Linked DNA regions of Homo sapiens. The protein of the gene in region 4 interacts with the protein of the main gene of each other region in a biochemical or structural test. Each region holds a gene or a part of one and is shown on either strand. Other genes may lie near its edges.

Evidence for each region.
Region 1: the proteins of SOX9 (region 4) and HNF1B form a complex in vitro, tested with the Homo sapiens proteins (one study listed by BioGRID).
Region 2: the proteins of SOX9 (region 4) and NFIX form a complex in vitro, tested with the Homo sapiens proteins (one study listed by BioGRID).
Region 3: the proteins of SOX9 (region 4) and MAF form a complex in vitro, tested with the Homo sapiens proteins (one study listed by BioGRID).

What each region holds. Positions count from the first base shown.
Region 1 is NC_000017.11:37,700,059-37,707,096, forward strand, and holds part of HNF1B (hepatocyte nuclear factor 1-beta), read right to left. Parts: exon of another isoform or gene 4,992-7,038; coding exon 4,859-4,991; exon of another isoform or gene 4,682-4,858; intron 2,839-4,681; exon of another isoform or gene 2,767-2,838; intron 1,120-2,766; coding exon 925-1,119; intron 1-924. UniProt on the Homo sapiens protein: Transcription factor that binds to the inverted palindrome 5'-GTTAATNATTAAC-3'. Binds to the FPC element in the cAMP regulatory unit of the PLAU gene. Transcriptional activity is increased by coactivator PCBD1.
Region 2 is NC_000019.10:13,075,447-13,082,484, reverse strand, and holds part of NFIX (nuclear factor 1 X-type), read right to left. Parts: intron 6,951-7,038; coding exon 6,814-6,950; intron 3,873-6,813; coding exon 3,750-3,872; intron 806-3,749; coding exon 630-805; intron 1-629.
Region 3 is NC_000016.10:79,597,714-79,604,841, forward strand, and holds the start of MAF (transcription factor Maf), read right to left. Parts: upstream 3,025-7,128; 5' UTR 2,190-3,024; coding exon 1,072-2,189; coding exon of another isoform or gene 1,068-1,071; exon of another isoform or gene 1-1,067.
Region 4 is NC_000017.11:72,123,994-72,126,928, reverse strand, and holds the end of SOX9 (transcription factor SOX-9), read right to left. Parts: coding exon 2,542-2,935; 3' UTR 513-2,541; downstream 1-512. UniProt on the Homo sapiens protein: Transcription factor that plays a key role in chondrocytes differentiation and skeletal development.

The DNA.
Region 1 (7,038 bases), about 34 Mb from region 4:
TGTAGAGATTGGACTTAGAGTGGCTAAGTAACTTGCATTAGGCTACACAGCTGGTAAGTATCACAGCCAGGATTTAAATCCAGGTCTGTCTGATCTAAGACTAGTGCTTTATACTGAACACTTCCTTGGGGTTTCTGAAGCAGAGAAGCCACGATTCCTCCCCAAACTCCTGTGTCAGGGGCTATAGCCAGACCTGGCCAGAGGATTGGAAGCCTGGGACTCAGGATGAAAGGCAGAGAAACAGAGGATGGGATTGGATGGGAAATAAGTGGTCGAAAGGTAGGCTTGGGGTAGGTATAGAAATTGGATATGAGAAACAGTCTGTGTGCAGAGATGCAGGGGTGGCATGGAGGAAGAAACTCTAATGCCCAGGATGGCATGCCACTGGTATTTTTCACTTGTGTTCATGGTTCTTGATTAGAGATGTTTGGGGTGTATAAATTGGAGGACACGGGACTCTAGAAGATTCTTCTCTTTTAGGGAAGGCAAACAGGATGCAAATTAGATGCCAATTGTGATCATTTGATAATGGCTGCTTGGAAGTTTAGATTGCAAAGGCTAAGTTGAAGTTCACTGGGAAAAGGTGCTGGTGGTTTATGGACGCGATCTTTTCCAGAGGTGTTGGAATGGGAAATTGGCGGTGTGTGTTCCACATGCTGTCTGGCTCCAATTCCCCTTCATCTGTAGGCCTACACTGTCCTCTTCAAACCCTTCCCTGGGAATCTCAGGGGTAGAGAAGAGGACTAGAAAAGGTACAGCAACACTCAAGAGTTATGCTTGAGAAATTGTCTTAGTCGGTTGATCATAGGCAGGGAAAAGTGACCAAGCCAATAAACTTCCGAGAAAGTTCAGACCCAGAGAGGGAAAGTGGTTGGCCACTGAGGGTCCTGAGTGCTCCCTCCCTCCACATGCCCGTGTCCTTACTGTGTGAGTTCTGCAGCTGAGTCACAGCTGCCATGAAGGGCTGCTGGGCCATGTGGCTGCCTGGGCTCTGCTGCATGAGGGGCTGCTGGTGAGGGCTGTGCAGCTGCTGGGAGAACTGGACGGGCTGCAGGGCTGCCAGGCTGCCGGCCACACTGTTGATGACAGGGACACTCTGTGCTTGGGAGGTGTTGAGGCCTGTGGGAGCAAGAGGAAAAGATCACAGACAGCTCCTGGGATAAGGAGAGGTGGATGGATGCCATCATTTGAGCCCCCGCTCAATGTCCCAGTCACCGGGCTGAGCCTGTTACATAGGAGATTCCATGGGAGGCAAGTGTAAAGAAACGGAGACTTGGAGATATTAATTTACTTGCTCAAGTTCCACAATGAGTTGTGGGTTGGAGATGGGCATTAAACAGATCTGATTAAAGCCTGAGAGTCTCCCAGAGTCATCCTGTGACCTCCCAAACTTAGCTCTCTTGAGGTTACCAGGGCTTTGGAAAAGCTGGCTCTACCTGCCCACTCCATCCATGCCAGGCTGTGAGAGAGGCTTGCCCTGGTGCCCGCAGGGCAGAGTTAAAGATGTCCACACTGAGGCACAGGTTATTGCCCAGATCGGTCTGTCCAGTAGAGGGCAGGAGTGTGCAGGGACCCAAATTTTGACTAAAAACAACTTCCATAGTCCCGGGAGTATGAGGTTGGGAGACCCTTATTTAGTAGACTGTACAAAGACCCCCAGAGAAATCAGGTGCCAACTCCCTTGACTGTAACAGAGAGGGGAGAAAACACTGGAACTCAGCCAGTCTGCGAGGCGGGCATATCTTATGTGGCAGCATAGGGCTTGTGGCACTAAAAGGACCAGGTTTTAGAAAGAGGAAGTAGTACATTAAAGGTTGACTCTTGGCATTTATAGTGGGTCTTCCCATCTTTCTGTTCTGGAGATGTCAGGGCCTCTGTAACTTGGAACTGTGTATCCTGAGGCCTCTTTAGAACCCGGGCCAGCACTCTGAGGATTGGATCCCCTGGTACCCATGCTCTATCTCCTCCCTGAGAGCGACACGGAGGAAGACAGCTAAGGTAGGATCGGAGTGGGGACAGGACGATCAGGAGAGAAGACACCTGGACCTGCTTCCTGGGGTCGATTGTGTTCCTGTGTTCTTGCTTTCTGGGAAGTTGGGGGAAGAATGGGATGAAGAAGGAATCCAGAAAAAGGTCTGTTTTAGGTGGATGTGGAAGGGACACCTAGAGAGGCTTTCCTGAAATGGAGACGGTTTCATAGGCAGGTTTGAGGGAAGTCATCAATGGAGATAACACGGAGTCCTCAACAATTGCCTACTCAGAGCTTTAGCTGATACTGTTATCAGAAACCTAAAAGGCGAGACCCCTGAGCAGAAAGGACAGGGGATGAATCCTGCTTCTGGCTCTCCTGGGTGGGGGCTGGGGGTGCCACCCTCTGATCACCCTCAGAACAGCACTGTCTCCAGTTCCCCAGGGGGCTCAGCGTCTCCTCAAGCCAGCATCTCACCAGATACCCTGATGACCGATGACCGTGTTTCCCTTTCCTACCTCCTGCTTATGGTCTCAGTCTCCCAGAAAGCTCCATGAATGTGCCGTTTTTGAGAAATCTTTGAGAGCACTGCTGCTGCTCTTTTTGAGAAACTGCTGCCCAAAAAAGCAAATGATCCTGTCTAGAGTGGATGACATTTGAAGGCATAGTTCTGAAACCTGCATGTGCTTCAGAAATCATCTGGGGGAGCTCTTTAACAAATATACATTCCTGGGCCCCACCCAAGACCTAATGAGTCAGAACCTTCAGAGGTGGGGCCCAGGAATCTTATTTTCAATGCAGTCTGTGATCCTGATGTGCCTCAATTCCAGGATTGAGAGCCTCTGATGTCATTCCAGCTCCCTCAGTGGGTAAGTCTTGACCTTTTCATCTGTTTCTGTTTCTGGGCACTGGTTCTTGCTTGGGAAGTATGCTATCCAGTCCAGGGAAGAGATGAGAAAGAGAATAGGATGAAGAGGTGAGAATGAGTAGAGAATAAGGAATTGGCCCTGCCAAATAATTTGTTACCACCTTCTCCACAGGCTTCCGCAATTCTGAGGCAGGGCCCATGGTACTCAACACATCAGTCAGTTAAATGAAGATGCCTGCAACCAGTTTCTCATCCTAACACTCCATAGTGTAGGACCTCTGTGTCTCAGCAGTCTTCTGGTGATTCTCACCATTTCTCATGCTCTGTCTACCCCAAGTGTACACAGATATGTACACACACAGCCATCCTTCTGAGGTCAGTGTGCACTCTGGTGCAGCCCATCTGAATAGGAGATTAAGGAGCATCGTGAAATGATAGAGAAATATGAGTAGAGGAAATTAGAAAGAACAAAATGGAAAGATGCAGACTAGCCCCAGGGAAAATTTTAATTCAGATAGTATATATATATATATAACTGTATGGCAGTGAAAGCTTAGAATGGAAAGAAAGAAGTTAAGTGGGACAGTTTGTTTATTATTTTGGTTGCAGAAATAAGTGGAATATCTTCCCCACGGGCCTTTTAATCAAATCTTCTAAATGGCAAACAAGCTGGTTTTAGGTATCTTATCTCATTCCAAACTCTGGTATTAGTATAATTACCATATTCCATATACCAGAGGGCCCAGTCAAAAGGCAATACATTTAAAATGATCATTTATATTGTGAGTTCTCTAAATGCTTCCCCATTCCCATTTTCCTTCTGCCAAAATCAATGCACTGTGTGTCAATTTCCAAGCAGCTAAGGATAGAGTGAGAGCCACACATATTCAATAAATTTGTGTGCCTCCAATGGGCTTAGCCCTGTTCTGACCTCAAAGGATGTGTAAGTCATTCTCTTCAGAAGTGAGAATCCAAGTTCCGACCCTAGCTAAAGCTGATTTAGGGAGAGAAGAGGGAAGAAAGAAAAAGGCAGAAACAAAACAAAGAGGTGGCCAACATGAGCCCTAGATACAAGGAAGGTAAGAGGACAATGGAGCAATACAAGGTTGAAAGAAAGATGACCAATGTGTTACCCTTAGATCTCTCCCAAGACATCCAGCAATACATCCAAGGGTCACAAGGATGGTTTTGAGAAACAACGACACCTGAGCTGTCATAGTGAAGCTGGAAATATGCTGAATACTCATCAACATTAAAACTCTCAAAGAGATATCCACAACCACAGTTCCCTTCAGCCTTCTCATGCCTCAAGATGGCCCATGTATGGGAGGGCACAGGCTTGCTGTTGAATATGAGCCTCCTGGAGCTGGAGGGACCTGATCCATCTCCGTGTCTTCAGGCGTGTGATGTGCCAAAGCAAGCTTTTTCTCCTTAAAGTTTTCAAAGCTCTCAGATACAATGGCAGTTTCCCTCTGGATCCTCCCTTGGTGTATTTTCACTGCTGGCCAAGGAGATTTCATATACCACACAAAACTCCCCATTTAGAAGGAAACCTGTCATTCTTACTTCATCATCACCAAACAGAAAGAACCTCCTGAAAAATCTACCACCTACTTAGTGATAGGAATGAACTCAAGACAAAGTGTAAGCTACGATGTTATACATATTCATGCTTTAGAGATTTATAAGCATGTTCATATTCACTGTCAGTTGATCACTTTAACAACCTATTTTATAGATGAGGACATTGAATCTCCTGAAGGTTCAATGATTTGACCCAGGATGCACAGCTGCTAAACTGTGACCAGGATCCAAATCCATTCCACAATTTTCTCTTGTTTTAGGCTAAACAATCCAAATATTGGATTTAAGGAGACAGATGAGAAACTAAAGAAGTTAAACCAAATCTACTAGTCGTGGGTGAGTTTGAAGGAGACCTACAGTTATTTTTCACCACATTAATTTGCTTCCCATTCTTCTTCTCCCTGCCCCCAAGTTTTCCAACCAAGAATAGAACTTACTTTGTGCAATTGCCATGACTCCAGAGAGGGGTGTCATGATGAGGTTTTGAGATTGCTGGGGATTATGGTGGGAGAGGCTGTGGATATTCGTCAAGGTGCTGACTGGGGGCAAACCTCCTCCTGAGACTGAGATCTGATGGAGAGAAAAAAACAAGAGAAACATGGGTGGACTTGGACCACAAAGAGCAGTTTCCAACACGATGTGACTTAGCGATTCCTTGGCATGACTAGTTCTCAAATTCATTCCTTCATTCACTCAATAACAATTATTGGCTGGGCATGGTGCTTCACCCCTGTAATCCCAGCACTTTGGGAAGCCAAGACAGGAGGACTGCCTGAGCTCAGGAGTTCAAGACCAGCCTGGGCAACATGGTGAAATCATCTCTACAAAAAAAGAAAAAAACACAATTATTAAGTGTCTACTGTGGGACAGACACTATTCTAGGTGCTGGGGATAGAGCAGTAAGTAAAACAGACAGTGATCCCTGCCCTCATGGTGCATCTATTGTTGACTGTCTGAGTTACTAGCCAGCTTCAGAAATTACTAAGGGTTGGGGGAGATTAGCCATTACAAGGTTTCTCTACTTTTTCCACATCTCCAGTACACATTACAAAATTTTTTTTCTTTTTTGGTCAAGGATCCTATATTGTAATCACCATTATATTTTAATGACAGATTAGTATGAGAAAGCTACTGATTTTGGTGTATTTACTTTGTACATGACCACTTCACTGAATCCTACTAGTGTCTTTTCCTCATTGATTTTTTTCCAAGTATGTAATTGTAATACAAGCATCTGATGGTAACAGGGTCTTTTCCTTGCTAGTACTGATATGTCTACATGTCCTATTATATTGCTTAGAACTTACAGTATTAAACAATAACAGCTGTAATAGATGTGCTTATTTTGCTTCTGATGTTATCAGAAATGTTTCCAATGTTTTCCCATTAACTCTAATTGTAATTATAAGGGCGCGATCAGTTTTAAACACACCTACACTTTTTCCATGATACATTAGTTTACTACTTATAGTTTCAAAATAATTTTTTTCTTTTTTTGAGGTGGAGTCCAGCTCTGTTGCCCAGGCTGGAGTGCAGTGGCATGATCTCTGCTCACTGCAACCTCCGCCTTGTGGGTTCAAGCAATTCTCCTGCCTCAGCCTCCCGAGTGGATGGAACCACAGGCACCTACCACCACGCCTGGCTGATTTTTGTATTTTTAGTAGAGACGGGATTTCACTATGTTGACCAGGCTGGTCTTGAACTCCTGACCTCAGGTTATGTGCCCACCTCAGCCTCCCAAAGTGCTGGGATTACAGGTGTGAGCCACTGTGCCCAGCCTCAAAATAATTTTTAAAGTTATTATGAAGAAAGGACTGGCCCCTCTTATTCTGAACCCAGGCGTGCTTGAGAGCATCAGGAACCCCGAGAGGTGCTTTAGGGTTAGGATGCACCAGATGTCTGAGTAACTCAACTTTCCTTCTTCCATCTTTCACTTCCCAGAGCTTTTCAGACGATAGCTCTCCCACCAGCACCCAGGTAAGATGCTATCTCCCACCCTGCCCTTCCGGTCAACTCCATAGTGTCCAAGGTTAATTTGAAAAAGAAAGAAAGCAAAAACCAAACAGGTTTGTTTGTGTTTTTAAAATAAGCATCAAGAAATGTTAGGGGGTCACATGACCAAGAAGGAATTCTGACCACATCAAACAAGAGAGAAGCAGCCTGTTTGCTGGACTTGTTTTTCAAAATACCAGTCATTAAAAAAAAAAAAAAAAAAATCCGTAGCCTGCCCTCAGACTGAATCTCTTGGGTAATGTAGTTCCTTTGGAGAAAGTCAACCAAGTGACAGTAATTTCTCTGACATTTCAGCATTTGGTTAATGGTATAAGAGAAGTGTGGAGGCCAATGATAAAAATAATTTAAATGTGTGTGACTTTAGGATTTGTAAAGTGCTTTCACTGATTGTCCTTAATAGATAATGACACAAGTAGGGCAGGCATTATTACTATCAGTCCCTGTATTACAGATTAAGAAACTGATCTTCAGAAGAGTTGAGACTATTTCTATGTCACTTGACTCATAAGTGAAAAAGCCAGAGTTAAAATCCAGTTTTGCTGGAGCTTAAATCTTATTCACTTACTAAGTTTGGGCAACCTTGATCAAGTTACTTCCCATTCTA
Region 2 (7,038 bases), on a different chromosome or scaffold from region 4:
TGGCAGCTATGTGGATCGGGGCTTTCCCTTGACACAGTGCTCCTCACTAGGGATGGTCTTCCCCTCCTGGGCACACTGAAATCTGGAGACTTTTTTTTATTATCAAGACTGGGGAGGAGGAGGTGCTCCTGGCATCTAGCAGGTGGAGGCCAGGGATATTGCTCAACATCCTACAGAGCACTGGATGGTCTCACACAATAGTGAATAAACAGCCCCAAATGTCAACAGTGCTGATACTGGGGAAACCCTGGTCTAGAATCTAGCAAATCCTTGCAGCCCCGAGGTTTAAGAGGAGCGCTGGGAGGTCAGGGCCCAGATCCGGGTTGGATCATCATGAGTTCACTCCTGCTGAGGGGGCAAGGACCATGGGAAAGGCAAGGAGCCTGACTGAGCAAGGGGGCCCAGATGCTGCCCCCACCTCTCCGGACCATGATAGACAAGCCCTGGCATAATACACAGACCCCCGTCCCCAGACCCAGAAAATCGAGGCGTTTGGTACTACCAGCTCCCTGCTGCTCCAGCCCCAGGTGGGCTCCTGGCTTTTGGGCCCTCTCCCTGTGAGCCCTGAGACAGACAGATAGATGTGGAGATGAGGCTGTAGCCGGGCTCCTGGGGCCCTCTGGACTCACCTGTCCGGTGGCCTGGCCCGAGCCATCCGAGCACACAAACTGCACAAACTCCTTCAGTGAGTCCTGCCCGTGGTGGTGGTGGTAGCGGATGGTCGGGTGCGTGAAATACGGGCTCGACTGCTGGATGATGGACGTGGAGGGGAAGTGCAGGGCTGATGCTGTGGCCCGGGGGCTCCCTGCATGCACGTGGGCAGGGAAAAAAGGGCGTCAGGGCCAAGGAGGCAGCCAGTGGGAGGGACAGGAGAGGAGGGGAGCTGCCGGTCAGAGGGTCCTGAGGATCCTGAGCAGGTAAGGCAGCCGCCACAGGCACAAAAGTTAAGGCGGCACAAAAAAGTCAGTCATCAGGATCCATGATGTTTTAATGCAATACAAAAATAATAATAATAATAATAATCAAATAGGCAAACTAGGGTCCAAAGGCCAGCCATTTGTTTTTGTAAATAAAGTTTGATCACAACCAGCGCTGGGAGATTAGGATGAGGCAGATGAGGCAGGGTAGGATCTTGTCTTTATTTTATTTGGCTTTTTAAAAAAGTGTTATTATTATTATTTGAGACAGGGTCTCGCTCTGTCATCCAGACTGGAGTGCAGTGGCACAAACACGGATCACGGCAAGCAATCCTCCTGGGCTCATGCAATCCTCCCACCTCAGCCCCCCAAGTAACCAGCACTACAGGTGCACGCCACCAGGCCTGGTAGATTTTTGCTTTTTTTTTTTTCTAGAGATGAGATTTTGCCATATTGTCCTGGTTAATCTCAAACTCCTGGGCTCAAGTGATCTGCCTGCCTTGGCCTCCCAAAGTGCTGGGATTACAGGCATGAGCCACTGTGCCCAGCCTAAAGAATTTTTTTTTTTGAGACTGAGTCTCGCTCTCTCACCCAGGCTGGAGTGCAGTGGTGCGATCTCAGCTCACTGCAAGCTCTGCCTCCCGGGTTCACGCCATTCTCCTGCCTCAGCCTCCCGAGTAGCTGGGACTACAGGCGCCCACCACCACGCCCGGCTAATTTTTTGTATTTTTAGTAGAGACAGGGTTTCACCGTGTTAGCCAGAATGGTCTCGATCTCCTGACCTTGTGATCCGCCCACCTCAGCCTCCCAAAGTGCTGGGATTACAGGCGTGAGACACCGCGCCCAGCCAGTATCTGTTAAATAGAGACAGGATCTCGCCCTGTCATCCAGGCTGTAGTGCAGTGGCATGATCACAGCTCGCTGCAGCCTCGAACTCCTGGCCTCAAGCAGTCTTCCTGCCTTGGCCTCCCAAAGTACAGGGATTACAAGCATGAGCCACTGTGCCCAGCCTCAACATTTTAAACCATTTTAAACAAAGACATGGCTGAGTGCTGTGGCTCATACCTGTAATCCCAGTGCTTTGGGAGGCCAAGGTGGGAGGATCACTTGATCCAGGAGTTGGAGGTCAGCCTGGGAAACATAACAAGACCCCGTCTCTACAACAAACATTTAAAAATTAGCCAGGGTGGCACACAGGAGGGATCACTTGAGTCTGGGAGTTCAAGGCTTCAGTGAGCTATAATCGTGCCACTGCATTCAGCCTGAGTAATAGAGCAGGAAACTGTCTTTGAAAAAAGAAAAAGAAAAACAAACAAAAAAACTGGTGTTTGCTTACCATACCCTTTTTTTTGCAATAGTTTGGATTTTAAAACATATTCCATTAAAATATTATTTATCTTGATGACTGAGTTTTTGATACTTGCTGACACTCTGCACCTAAGGTGAGTGCCTCACTAGCCCTGCCTTAATTCAGGCCCTGGGTGGGAGACTGGGTGGGGGACAAGAGGAGGCAGAGGGTTCCCTGGGGCTCTGGATGAAGACAAAGCCAGCATCTGCTCAGGATGGCCGTCTGACATATGCACACACATCTCCTGAGTGCGAGCTGGTGTGCACCCAGCCACCGCCACCTAGGCGGTGTTCTCATGTGCTCAGCCTCATCACTCACACACGTGTCCTCACATACGCGTCCTTGCACACGCAATTCCCAACCCAGAGCAGGCCCCAGCTCTTCCTCCTCCCGTCTGTTTCCAATCAGCTCGCTCTTGCTCTCGGTTTCATTAGGGGGCTGAGGAAACTTGGCTTCTCTCTGGAGTTCATAAAAGCTGAGGTGGAGCCGGAGGAGCCAGGCCTGCGCCCTCCTGCTGCCTGTGTAGAGGGCCTGGGCTCCCCACCCCCACCTCGCGGCCACCACACCCTGCCCCAGCACCGGCTGCCTCTGGGCTCCCAGCCAGGAGGCCCCAAGGAGGAAGCCAGGAGGTAAACCTCCTCATTTTCTGTGTCCTACATACGAGCCCAGGAGATGGCAGGCGGACATAGGGCCATATCCAGAAAAAGTCCAGGCCTCTTGCTGCCAGGTGGGTGCCCAGAGAGGGAAGAAGAAAGTGAAGGAGTGACAGGGCTGAGGTCTCAGCTCCCACAGCCTCCTGCCTGATCCTATCTCCTCAGGGCGATCTAGGTGTTCTCATCCTGAGCACCTTCTCAACTGGGACACTGAAGTCAGAGAGCAGCCCCACGGCAGTGGGCAGTTCCTTTTCCTGGGGAGCAGCCCAGGTACCACCTGTCCCCTAGACCCAGCCCTTCCTTTCTAGAAAGCGGCAGGGAGGCCCAGACAAGGTAGCTACTTGCCGCAGGAGCCTGGGCTCCTTAGGAGTACTCTTCTCCATCCAGGCCCCACATCAACCTGGGCTCATGCTGGCAAAAATCCAGAGCCTGGGCTCAGCCAGGAGCTGGGAGAGAGGAGCCGGCAGGAAGGCAGAGCAGAAGGCTGTGCCTTCCCGCTCACAGCTGGCAGGACAAAAGGAGAACTGGGCCAGAGTTGGGGAGGACTCGGGACAGGCTTGTGTTGTATGTAGCACCCATGCACGTGAGGAGTGAGAAGTGGGAGGTTGCTCAGGAGCCAGGTGGGCAGCCCAGGGGCCCGGCCTGGTCCTCGATGAGGTGCTACGTGAAGCAGGGGCCGGCTCCCATGCCCACCCGCTGCTGCACCTTGGCCCACTTGGAGAGCGTGGGGCTGTCACTCGGGGTCAGCTCTGGCCCCTTCACCTGGCCAGCTGCCCCTAGATACTCAGCCACCTCCCCAACTGCCCCCCTCCGGGGCCCCCCATTTCTCACCTGGTCTGACTCCAGCAAGCACAGGCAGCGGGTGGTGGGTGAAAGCCATGCGCGGGGAGCTGCCCTGAGAGGAGAGGGCACTGCAGAAGTCCAGCTTTCCTGACTTCTTTAGAGAAGCCGGGCCTGGGGGGAGGAAGCAGCAACACAGGGCAGGTTTAGCTGGGCTGGGGTGGGTGCGGGGAAGGCGGGAAGCCAGCAGCTCGCTCCTTCTCTCCTCAGCCCCTCCCCACTGCCCCTTCCTCCACTGTGCTCCCTCCTGCTGCTCCTTGCCCAGTCCCAGGCCTTGTTCTAGGCCTGGTTCCGAGGCCCTGTGTGTAGGCCAGCCAAGGGGTGCTTCTAACCAGAGAGGAAAACGAGGCCCCTGGGTAATGTGGGGTGGTGTGTGCCAGGCAGGGGGTGAGCAAGGGCCCCAGCCTATGCCCTGGCAAGCAGGTAATGAAGTGAAAGGGTGGGATGCAGGACCAACATTGGGAAAGGAGTGCAGGAGGAACCCCAGGGCGCCAGCTTGAGAGCCGGGAAGGGGTAAGTTTGGGAGGGACAGGCTGGGGTCTATGCCATGGTGCCCGGGGCCATGGGAGGTTCTGGTGGGAAGAAGCCAGGGCCCCGTTTAGGGAAGGGAGCACACAGCCATGAGCCCTCAGGAGGGACACAATGCCCAGCGAGAGAGCAGGGACAGAGGCCAGAGGACCTGGAGAGTCCTTGGGCTGCTCAGGCCTAGCCGGGCTGTGCAGGCAGAGCCAGAGGGGAGAAGACTCCCCCAGCCAGGGGACCCAGAAGCTCAGCTGCCATAGGATGGATAATTTCAGGGCTCTGCCCTGCTTCTGGTGCCAGAGGTGTGGGTGGCATTCAGCATGAAACAAGGGCACAGAGAACACCTTGTTTGAAGTCTGTCTTTAGAAATTCATCTCTGCCCAGTGGCCATAGCATCCAAATGACAAAGCAGGGCCCCCAGGGGGCCAGGTTCTTCTGGAAAGATCAGCTCCCATCTTGGGCTGAGCTTTAAGGTTGTGCCCAGGCTGGGAAGGATAAGGTAGAGTTGGGGCAGATCTCACAGCTGCCACCCTTGGAGGACAAATCAAGTCAGTTTGGGTGAGGGGTGGAGGGGCTGCAGAACAGAGAAATAAAGAGCCATCTTAACTGCAGAGGGAAGGGGCGGGGGAAGGGCGAACTCCCAGCCGCCAGCGGAGGTGTTATCTGGCAGCAGCTGTGTGCCACCTGATAGCTGGCACAGTGGGGAGGGGGGAGCATCCTACCAGCTGTGCACAGCTGTCCCCATGGCCGCACAGTGCCTCCCCAGCTGTTCCCTGTCCTGCAGCTGGGCTGCTTAATTGGCAATTTGTTGCAGCCCATGAAAACAACACACAGCGGGGTGAGGGGAAAAGGGAGCCGGAGGGTGCTGCAGGAGGATGTTGAGGGGCCGTGCGTGGCAGGACTGCCGGAAGGAGCAGAAATGCAGAAATGGCAGGCGCAAAAGCAGACAGCCAAGAAAGGAGAGAGCAGGAGCCAGGAAGAGGGGGGCTCCTCAGGAATTAGGTCTGGGCACAGGAGCCCAGGAGCCCTTGCCCCAGGAGCCAGCTGCAGACACAGTCCTCTATGCACCCCAGGGGCAGTCCTTGCAGAAGGGGTCACCTACTGAGGCCCCGGCCAGGGACCCAGGATGTAGCCCAAGAGTCTCCCGGGCCTTCTCAACTCCTCTCTCTGCCTCTCAAGGCTCCCCTAGGGAAGCATGTGGCCCATGCTGGCCCAAGTCCCTGCCTGCCACGAGGAGAGCCTGGGAGGGGCCCCAGAGTCACGCAAGGAAGCCTTCTCACAGAGGCCAGCCTCTGCTGGCCATCTAGAGGGTCTCCAGCCCACTCCCTCAGCCTGAGGCCTGGAGGCGAGCCCTCCTTTCCTCCTCCCAGGAGGAGGAGAAGCTGCCAGAACTTGCATTCGTTCTGGGGCAGCAGAAAAGCAGGAGTGCTTCCCAGCCCCACCTCGCTCCACCCCAGACTCTGCCTGCCCACTTGGCCCTTCCCAGTAGGGGCATATCTGGAAAACATCAGACAAAGTACCATTAGGTCAGACCCTCACCTTTTGGAGGAGGAGAATGATGCCCAGGGCCCAGGCCTGTCCAGAGCAGCCATGCCCTGTGCACAACCCACACGCGTGAGTCTGCACTCCCAGGCCCTGTCACACCCACAGTGAGGATAAACACGGGCTGTACCACTGGCACGTCAGCGGGGGACTCTTGCGGCCAGCCTCCTCACACACATGTGCTCATGCACATGCACACACACACACGCACGTGTTACATGCTGTCTTCCAGAGTCCTCTCTAGGTCTGTCTGCACCCTCAGTCAAGAATGGAGGTGAAGGGGGGTGGGTTCAACAAGAAGAAGATCCCTAGAGGAGACTGGGAAGGTCTGAGCTGGCTTCCTCTGTACTCTCTCCCCTTCGCTAGCTTCCCTACCTGGTCTCAAAAGGACTCTGCTCATTCTTCACTAGACTCTGAGCCTCTCTCTGTGAAGCTGGGCCCTTGAGACCAGTGGTTCTCATCCTGGGAGGATTCCATCCCACTAGGGAACGTCTGACAATGTCTGGAGGCGTTTTTGGTCATCAAAACTGGGGGTGGGGGTTTTGCTGCTGGCATCTTGTAGGTGGAGGCCAGGGATGCTGCTAAACATCCTGCCATGCACAGAACAATCCCCTACACAGAATGATGAGCCCCCAGGGTGAGAAACTGCTTTCAACCATGAGGCCACGGGGTGGGGCAACCTCTAGAGAAATACCAGGAGGGGCTGCGGCCATCCCACTGTGGGGCACCAGAGGCTTGGCACCCCCTCTGCTTCCCACCGCCATACCACGGGCTCTGCTGCTGACTCTCACAGCACCCCTCCTCACCCTCACCTCCACTCCCTTCCTTCAGCCTGCTCTGCCCTCCCTGGAAGATCAGGAGGCAAGAAAACAGATGGGTAATGCCCCCCGACAGGGGGACAACTGGTGGGAGGCTCACCAGGTGAACTGAGAAGGGGACAAAAAGACTCTGGGCTGCCCTTGCTCTGGGTCAGGATCCCCCGCACCCATACCTGCATCCACATCGTTGGGCCACCCGCTGGACTGGCTGCTGCCAGCTGCTGGGGAACGGCCTGTCCCGGGATAGAACACGTCATCAACAGGGCTCTCCATCTCACTGTCATCGATGGACTTGGGGCGCTTGGTGGTGCTGGGGAAGAAAGAAAGGGTCACATGGGCCAAGGATGGGCTGAGGCTCCAGGGAGTGACCAAGAGTCCAGGCTAAAGAACTGTGCATA
Region 3 (7,128 bases), on a different chromosome or scaffold from region 4:
TGCTATAAGTCTTCGAACGTCCATTTCCAAGCCAAAAGGAAAAAAAAAGGAAAAAATAATTATACCATACATGTCCAGCATGCAGGCTTTTTTTTTTTATTAATATAATGTCTCTTTTCCATAAAGTCTTTGAAACAGTTATAGTTCATTGTTGCTAAGACAAAGTAGCAAGCATAATAATGCATGAGATGAGAATGAGTTTTTTTAATGGCAGACTAAACTCTCAGATTTGGCATCACAAGGCCAAAACTCACAAGTCACACCCAGAAGGTTGATGCAGGCTTGATTGTGGAAGGTTCATGAGGATTTTTTTCTCTATTTTAGCATAACAATGCTAAAAAAAAAACCCGATGGAACTCGGCACGCTGCAAGTCTATAACATTTCACATTTTTTTTTCCTTTGCAAGCTCAATCTCACATGAAGAACTCAGGAGAAGAAAAAAAAACTTTGCTTTTTTTTTTCTTTCATCTCGGAAGAGATGGGTTGAGAAGGAGTGAGGGTGGAGGTTGGAAAAAAGGTGGGCAACACAGCAAGCTCTAAAAGTAAAATTAAAAAAAAAAATCCAAACAAAATAAAACACACACACACACAGAAAATGAACACCAGTTCATGAACTGAAGGGGAAGAAGAAGAAAAAATATGTGAATGATGCAGGCTTCAAAGGTGATCAACGTTTCACATGAAGAACTCTGCTGAGATCATTGAACATTGTGCAAGTCCGGGGGTGGGGCGGGGGGGTGTAAAAAAAAAAAAAAAACAAGCTAGCAAGTTATGGAGAATTTCAGATTGGCAATCCATGAGCCAGACACCCATTCCCTCCCCAGTTTAAAACAGCCACCACCACCACAAACTCGAGCAGGGTGTGGGGTGTGTGTGTGTGTGTGTGTGTGTGTGTGGTGTGTGCGTGCGGGTTTGTGTGTGTGTAGGGGGCCAAGGGGGCCAAACTCGGTGGGGGTGGGGGTGGTGAGGTGGTGGCGAGCATGGCTCTAGAACTAGCAAGCCCACACCCGAGCCGGACCCCCGCGGAGCACTTATCAGGGTGGCTAGCTGGAATCGCGTGTCAGACTCACATGAAAAACTCGGGAGAGGACGGGTTGTCGCTGCTCGAGCCGTTTTCTCGGAAGCCGCTGCTCACCAACTTCTCGTATTTCTCCTTGTACGCGTCCCTCTCGCGCACCAGCCTGGAGATCTCCTGCTTGAGGTGGTCGACTTGCTGCAGCAGCTGGTTCTTCTCCGACTCCAGGACGTGTCTCTGCTGCACCCTCTTGAAGCGGCAGGACTGGGCATAGCCGCGGTTTTTCAGGGTCCGCCTCTTCTGCTTCAGCCGGATCACCTCCTCCTTGCTGACCCCGCGCAGCTGCCGGTTCAGCTCGCGCACAGACATGGTCACCAGCTGCTCGTCGGAGAAGCGGTCGTCGAAGTGCAGGCCGCCGGCGGCGTGGTGCGGGTGCAGGGCGCCCCCCGCCCCCGCCGCGCCCCCGCCGCCTCCGCCGCCGCCGCCGCCGCCGCCGCCCCCAGCGCTGGCCGGGCCACCGCCGCCCGCGCCCCCAGCGCCACCGGCCGAGGCGGCCGCGCTGCCCGCGGCGCCGGGCGCGCCGGCCGTCGGGTGGTGGTGGTGGCCGGCGGCGTGGTGGTGGTGGTGGTGGTAGTGCGGGCCCGCGCCGCTCTGCGCGGCGGCCGCGGCGATCACGGCGGACACCACGGCGGCGGCGGGGCCCATCTCCTCGCCGCTGCCGCCCAAGGAGGCGCCGGCACCGGCCCCGGCCGCCGCGGCCAGCTGCTGCGCCCCGCGCGCGTAGCCATCGAAGCCGCCCTGGAGCTGGTGGCTGTTGCTGATGAGCGCCTCGACCGCGTCCTCGGGGCTGAAGCCCAGCGCCTCGGGGTTCAGCTGCTGCGGGTAGCCGGTCATCCAGTAGTAGTCTTCCAGGTGCGCCTTCTGCTCGCTGCCCGAGCCCGGGCTGGGCGCCGAGAAGCTGGGGGAAGGGGGCACCGAGCTGCACGGCGTGCTCATGGGGGTGGAGGACAGCGAGCCCCCGGCGATGAGACGGCCGCACTGGCTGATGATGCGGTCGGTCTCCACCGGTTCCTTTTTCACTTCAAACTTCATCAGATCGAAGTCATTAACATATTCCATGGCCAGGGGACTGGTGGGCAGGTCGGAGTTGCTCATTGCCAGTTCTGATGCCATTCTCCTGCCGCCGCCGCCGCCGCCGCCGCCGCTCCGCCAGATGGGCTGCAGGAGAGGGGCCAGCGGGCTGTGCTGGGTGGCCAGCGGGTGAGCCAGCTTGCCGGGCTGGGGCGCTTCTAGCTTGCGCGGCGGTGGCTGGCCCGAAACCTCCGAGCGCGCTCACACACACACCCCCCCGCCCTGCCCGCGCCCCCCGCGCCCGCCCTCCCTCCCCCCTGCTCACGCCAATGTGCTCCCTCGCTCGCCCCGGCCCCTCCTTGCTCGCTCGCCTCCTTGCGCGCCGAGCCGGCGGCTTCAGGCTCGGGAAGATCCTCCGCGAGCTGCGGTGGCGGCGGTGGTGGCTGCGGCGGCGAAGCTGGAGGAGCCCGGCCCGGTGCGCGGCGTCCCCCGCTCGCCGCTCCGCTGCGCGCTTTGCATAAGGAAGGGCTCGCCTCGCCGGCCCGGGCTGCAGGCAGGGCGCGCGCGGCGTCCGCTCGGGGCTGGAGGCGCGGCGGGCGTCTGTCCGGGCGGCGCGGGCCTTGGCACGGGGGAGTTAACACTTCATGCTTCTCGCCTCCTCTTCTGCTTGGCTCTCTTTATTATTTTTTTTCTTTCCTCTCTCTCCCTCGCGCGCTCTCTACCTCTGTGCAAAGTGCAAGGCAGAGGTGCAGCCCGACTGGAGGAGAGGGAGGGGGGAGTTTAGTTCTTTCTTGCCTTTTTTTAAAAAAGCAAAATAGCGAAGTCCTGGGGAAAGACGAGGCAGAGAGCAAAGGGGGGAGGGGGAGGCCAAGCCGACAAGCAGCCCGAGCTACAGCTAGAAGATGAAAAAAGATTTTAAAGCCTCTGATCCAGCAAGAAGAGTTTAAAGCAATTGCTGAGTTTTATAGCACTCGTGACGTCAGGTCCAAATGAGAAATTGACTGGCACTCCGGGCCAATGGGAGGCGGCGAGAGCGGCCGCGATTAGCATAATAGTATAGAAACAAGGAAACTTTTCGGAGCTGTCAATCAGGGCCCAATCAGCTGACTGTCAGCTGGGACGGGCTGGCTTAACCCTTCCTGCGCCGCTGCCTACCCGGGAGGGAACGAGGCCCGGCGCAAAGTTTGGTGTAAGAGGGGAAGGAGTTTTTCCAGAGGGGCTTCGGCAATCCGGGCGGACCTGGGAGGGCGGTTTGCTTTTCTTTGGAGCGCGAGACAGGCCTCCCATCCGGAGCCCCAGCTCGCTGGGGGCTCACTCGGCTGGGATTGGCCTGATTCCCCTCCCCTGCCTGCCCTCCACCCCCAGGATTGTGAATTCGCCTCCCAGCTTTTCCTCCTCGCACCAACTCTGGTACCCAGGTGTCTGCCGGGGACCTTCCTTCCCTGAGCCTGGCCGTGCCCGGCGCTCAAACTTGGCCCCAACTCTTTGTCCGTCTCTCGGGCGCCCGTGCGGGGAAGGGACCGGGAAGGGAGGGATGCAGTGGGGTGTCCGGATCGGGGCTGCGGGCTGGGCGCCGCCCGGCCATGCGCCTGCCCAGAAGGCTGGGCATCCGTGGAGAGGGAAAGCCCATTTTATCCCTCTCTTTACAACGAGGTAAAATAAGTTGTTTAGAGGCCATTCTTCACGGAGACCGGCTGCCCGCTGGCGTCGCGTGCCCTTGGACAGAGCGAGCGCCTATGCGAGATAACTCCGGGGAAGCTCAAAGTCAGGTCAGCCGGGCTCAGCCTTCCGGCTCCTGACTGGCCGGAGTTTGGCCTTTGAGACTCATATTGCGCGCTCGCTCTCTCTCTCTCTTACACACACACACACAAACACACACACACTCACACTCACCCGTCCCCTTACGAAATCTGACCTCTGTTTATCAGGGTCAGGCGCGCCCTTTGCACTTTTACGTTTCCTTTAATTATTTCGGACTTGATCGTGGCAGGGAGCAAGGGGGAAAAACAATACCCCAGCCCTCACCAGCTACCCTCGAAGGGTTAAATTTTAAACCGCGGTTTCTGGAACTAGTCCGGAAACGCAGAGTGGGGGGTGGGGTGGGGGAGGCTGCTCCCCCCACCCCCAGTTGCAAATGCTAATAAGTAGTTCAAATTTCTAGATTGATTCTCTAAAAGTTTATGCAAAAAAGAAATAAAAAAGAAAAAGAAAAAAGAAGGAAACCAACAACTAACTCTGTTTCTAAGATTTTAAAGCGATAGGCAAGTCGAAGAAGCAGAGATTTATTTGGAGAGAAAGCTCCTGAAACCGACCCAGCCTTTGGAAGACCAGCCCGTCTGCTTAGAAGTTGGGACTGTTGATTCCTTCAATTAATGAAATGCATTTGGTGTTTTTAATCGTATTTATTTTACTTTATGAGAAGGGGGAGACGCTAGGAGGGTGCATTAAAAAAAAAAAAAAATTCTGAAAAGCCTGCAAAAGGATCGAAGAGTGGAAACTATTGTTGGAGCGAGTTGGTTTTTACCTCAACAGCGCCACCTTTCGGCAAAGGTCAGTTGAAATTGATCCGTGTCCAGTTTTGTCGATGAAGTGAAAAGCAGCTGGTTACCCAGTGTGGGAGGAGGAAAGAGACACACAAAGTTAGTTTGACTGAAGTGGGAGAACCCGACCCTATAGGAAAGGGGCCGAAGAAAGTGCTGGCAGATGCAGAGATCATTTTTGCCCCTCCTCTTCTCCTTGATTGTTGACAAAGAGGCCAGGGGATACAGACACCCTCGGGGTGTAATTTCTGGCTGAGACCTTTGCAAGAGGATCCCCATGTAACAGGGCCCCAAACCCTTTAAAAGTGCCAGGATGGATTTTCAACGGGCTTTATGGCAATATCAATAGGATTAAAGTTACTTGTAATTCAGTGATAAATGAGATGTCTCTAGTAAGTAAGATTAAGTGCAGTGCTATAAAGTTGTTTATCTGGAAAGTAATTCTCAGAAAACCTGACTTCTGACACTTAGTCATATATTAAGCCAGCGTCTTGAACATTGCACTTCAGAATGGTCTTCCCCACCCCGCAGCATGCTTTGCTATTTATAACCTCAGGTGTCTCTCACTCGTTCCTTGCACCATATTAGACCTGTGTTAATTTCTCTGATCCTAGTAGACTTCAGTTTCAGCAAACCCAGGAATCCTTAATGGAAGACTTCCCAAAAGATTCGTAGGCACACCCTAATCTGAAAAGGGCAGCGCTGTCGGTATTTTTCAGACAAGTAGTGTTTCTTTTCATCGTGACTGCAGAGAAGTTGTTAATAAGGGTAGTTTTGGTCTTATAAGAGCATTTTGTTGGGTGGAATAAACTATGTCTATTACCAGTTTGGGGAAGAAAGAGTGAAGATTATGTCAATATTTATGCAACCTAGCAGAATTCCCTTGCTTTCCTTCTCTTTAACAATATTTTCCCTAGTAATGAAGTTAAGGGATTATAGTTTATTTAGAGGAAAATCCACACTTTCCATTACATAAGCATTATGTCATTTAACATTGCCCGTAACAATAGTTTTCTAGGTCTTTTTAAAAGTCAGTAGTCACAAATGTAGGAAGTTTATATTTTTCATGTAAAATATGAATTTAAGTGTATTTAGAAAGAATTTATTGTTTGTTTATGATATACTTTTAATCCTTTTGCATCATATTTGTGTTAAAAGCTGTAAGGTATGATCATTGCCTCTGAAAGCAGTATTATAATAAATAATAAATAATATTTTATACACAAAGTTTGCTAATGATGAAGACTGTGCCATACACATTCATGGCTGAGTATCTAATTGTTACATTGTTATATATCATTTCTAGAAATTAAATGCCCATGTTTGGGCAGCTAAATATATTATTATCTGCACATTTTTATGGTTTATTTATGTACACTGCTGTGAAGACATGGTATTTTTATTTCTCTTATTGCAAGGTCTTTTATAGTCGCCCATTTTCTCTTGGAAAAAAAAAAGAGAGGATCAGAATTATTTTTTTAGATGTGTAGCAGTAATGCTCTCAGGCTTATAACTTAATTCTCATTTTTATCCTTTTTACATTATTATTTAGTGATTCACAGGGGTGTCTAAACATTTACAGTTCTCTGTTAGCAGCATTTCTTTTATAACAATTGAGCTCTCTCATTTTAATGAGTACTATTCAGGTTTTTGATTCTGTACAATTACAGTGGGCCACATGTCTTTAGACTTCTTTGCTAACATTGTTTGTTTCACTTCTATCCAAGCCAATCTAATCCAAATACAATGTGAACTGTGTTTTCTTACTGCTTAACATCCCCTTGCTATATATACTCTAGTAATCTCTGTAGAACAATATACAGTAATTTAGAAACCATGCATTTGTCATTATTGACCAATTCGGACCAGTAGTATTAAAGTTTTTGAAAGCAATGAATATTTATAGGAGATTTGTGAGGGGGAGGAGGACATGGGTTACATCGCATAGAATATTGTGACACAGTAACATCAGAAACACAATTATAGTTTCACGTCAGTACATACATAATGACTTCATGCAAAAATGAAAAACAAAACCCCTGTTCATGTCCAAATTACAAAGATTAAAAGCTTAAAGGAATATATTTTCCCCGATTGTGAGTTATAGCAACTCAAATATATCATGTTGGAATCAGACATCCATAATCTGAATAGAATGGGATGCATCAGGTATGGTGTCTGGACTCTTTGTTTAGGGGCTGATTTTATGGGGCAGAACTAACCAGTGTCCACTAAATTTCACTATGAAACCAACTAAATTGATTTGAGAAAGAGTTCTTCAGAGTAACTGAACGATAAGGCGTACACTGTTCTTAGGTCCAGTGTTAGATAAATCCTTTTAACAGTCTTCAGTTAGCAGGGTAAGTAAATCACAAATCACTGTTAGCAGATTCATGGAAGAAAATTAATAGAATCAGACGAGATAATCTGATAAGGGCAAAATTGCTGAGGAAACAGTCTTGCCTCATGTTGGAGGATGTGAAACAACAGTCTGATTACTA
Region 4 (2,935 bases):
GTTAATACGACAGGCTTCTCTCTGGTTCCCTGTAGACACTGATTTTCTCTGGCTTCCTTTGCTTTTTAAGTGGATACTCCATTTCTTGGGTATGTGTTCATAGGAACGGAAAGTTTGCCATATTAAAACCAGATAAGCAAGTCACCCCTCTGGCATTCTGTCTACTGACAAGCTCCTGATTTCAGGTCTAATATTCCCTGTGACCTCCACAAGGGACAGCTTTTGCCCTGAAGCATGAGGTCATGAAAACCACAACAAACATTTTTGCCAGAGTGAGCAACTACTGACATGTAATTTTCTGTGTGATCTATTGGAGTGGCACTTTTCAAGATTTTTCTGCCTAGATTTTTGGAGATACAGTCTTTTCCTCAGCTTGTTTTCTAGGATTGCCAAAGGTGCTGATAAAAAACAAAAACATCACAGCAATCAGCACTCCACAATGTCTTTTGTGCTCAAATTTGCCAAATCATCCAACAGGAGAACTGGGTGAATAAATCCACAGGGCCACTTTCTTTTTAATGCAATGTATATTTATTGTAAACAATAATATACAAAAAAAAAAAAGAGAAAGAAAAAGGGAAAGGTAAGTTTCACGGAGAGAACAAAAGGTTTGGGGCTGGGAGGGAAACAAGTGAAACAAACAAAACACGAACACAAACCAAAGCTTTTACCTAAAGACAAAATATGATTTAAATGCCAGGTTTCTTAAGTTACAGAAGTATCTTTTTAAAAAGATCTGCTTTTATACAGAAATTGAAGGATGCCATATTATGAGTGCTTTAAGATTTTATTCTACTGACTTCTAAAACTGTTAATATATCTTTTTTTAAATAAAAAAAAAAGTTTGCTGTCTTTTTTAAAAAGCAATCCTCAAACTCTCTAGCCACAGCAGTAATTAAGATTAAGGTCTGTCAGTGGGCTGATCCCCTCCAGGTAGCCTCCCTCACTCCAAGAGAAGATGCAGAGAAATATGGATGACACATGCTTGCATTGTTTTTGTGTCAAAACACACACACACCCACACACACACACAATATAAGGCAGCCCAAAGGTCTGTGGCAGAAAACACTGCAAATGACTCAGTGATACACTACATTTGCAATCTCTCATTTATACAAAAAAAGAAACAAGTTTCCAGTTTGTTTTCAACAAAAACAACAAAGAAAAAAGGGATGGACAAAAAGGCATTTATACAAATCTAGGGTGAGGAATACAAAGAAACTTGCTTTTAATAATAAAAAAAGATTAAAGAGATAAATAAAAAAAAACTGGTTACAGTTAAGAACATAATTTAACAACAGATGACCATACCCTTTGAGGAAAGCTCCAACAACCTATTTTAAAGAAGGTAAAATTGGAAAAAAAAAAAAAAAAGAATTTTTTTTTGTTTTAATTAAAACCTCTCCTTACAAAATAAATAATTTTAGCAAGTGGAATGTCTTGAAGGTTAACTGCTGGTGTTCTGAGAGGCACAGGTGACAGAGCGAGCAGGCATCTGCCTTCCACATGGGGCCCAGGCAGGCAACCGGGGGCAGTGTGCTCGGGCACTTATTGGCTGCTGAAACATTCCCAGAACAGATTTCATCTCCTTTGCTTGCCTTTTACCTCTTTCTTAAGACTGCAGTGAACAAGCAAAGGCAGGAGGAAATGCACTAAAAGAGTGCAAATGTTTCCCAGCAGCACCGTTTTAAGGCTCAAGGTGTTTTTCTCTTCTTTAAAAAATATATATATGATAAAGCTTACCAAATGCTTCTCTAGACTATTGTTTACTCCCATAATTGCAAAATAAGGCCTTTATTTTTTTTTAAGGCAGCTCCTCCTTAAATCGCAAAGCCTGAGGAATTAAGCAAAGTTAACCCCCAAAACTGATCACATAACACAATTCTGTTTTTAAATGTTAATACAACAGGATTTTTTTTTTCTTTTTGTAAGAGAAAGCAAATCTGTACAAAAATACTCTGGTTGCAAGAAAAGCTAGGGCACACTGTTCAACTAAGAGTAGTTTAGCTGTTGGAAAAATAAGAGCATTTAATTTTATCTAAAAATATGTATAAATCCCCTCAAAATGGTAATGAATCATACACAGTACATACTAAAAATATTTAAAATAGAGAATATTCCTCACAGAGGACTTTTTTCTTTAATTACTGCTAAAAAAATAATTACAAAGTCCAAACAGGCAGAGAGATTTAGCACACTGATCACACGATTCTCCATCATCCTCCACGCTTGCTCTGAAGAGGGTTTAAAAAGTCCAGTTTCTCGTTGATTTCGCTGCTCCATTTAGCCAAGGTTGGCCTGGCCACTGATTGGCCACAAGTGGGTAATGCGCTTGGATAGGTCATGTTTGTGTCTTGGAAATTTGGGTACGAGTTGCCTTTAGCTTAAATGTCTTTAAGGAAGAAGAAGAAGAAGAAAAAACAAAACAAAATAAAAAAACAAAAAAACACAAATGTCCAAAGGGAATTCTGGTTGGTCCTCTCTTTCTTCGGTTATTTTTAGGATCATCTCGGCCATCTTCGCCCTTCGTGGGAGGCCTCCTCAAGGTCGAGTGAGCTGTGTGTAGACGGGTTGTTCCCAGTGCTGGGGGCTGTGGGTCTGCGGGATGGAAGGGACCCCAGAGGTGTCGGCGATGGGGGTGTACATGGGGCGCTGAGCGGGGTTCATGTAGGTGAAGGTGGAGTAGAGGCCGGTGCCCTGGCCTGCCGCGTGGCTGTAGTAGGAGCTGGAGTTCTGGTGGTCGGTGTAGTCGTACTGTGAGCGGGTGATGGGCGGGTAGGAGGGGCTGTAGTGTGGGAGGTTGAAGGGGCTGTAGGCGATCTGTTGGGGCGAGTGCTGCTGCTGCTCGCTGTAGTGGCTGGGGCTCAGCTGCTCCGTCTTGATGTGCGTTCGCTGGGACTGGCCCGGCTCGCTGCTCAGCGTGGTCAGCGTGTGC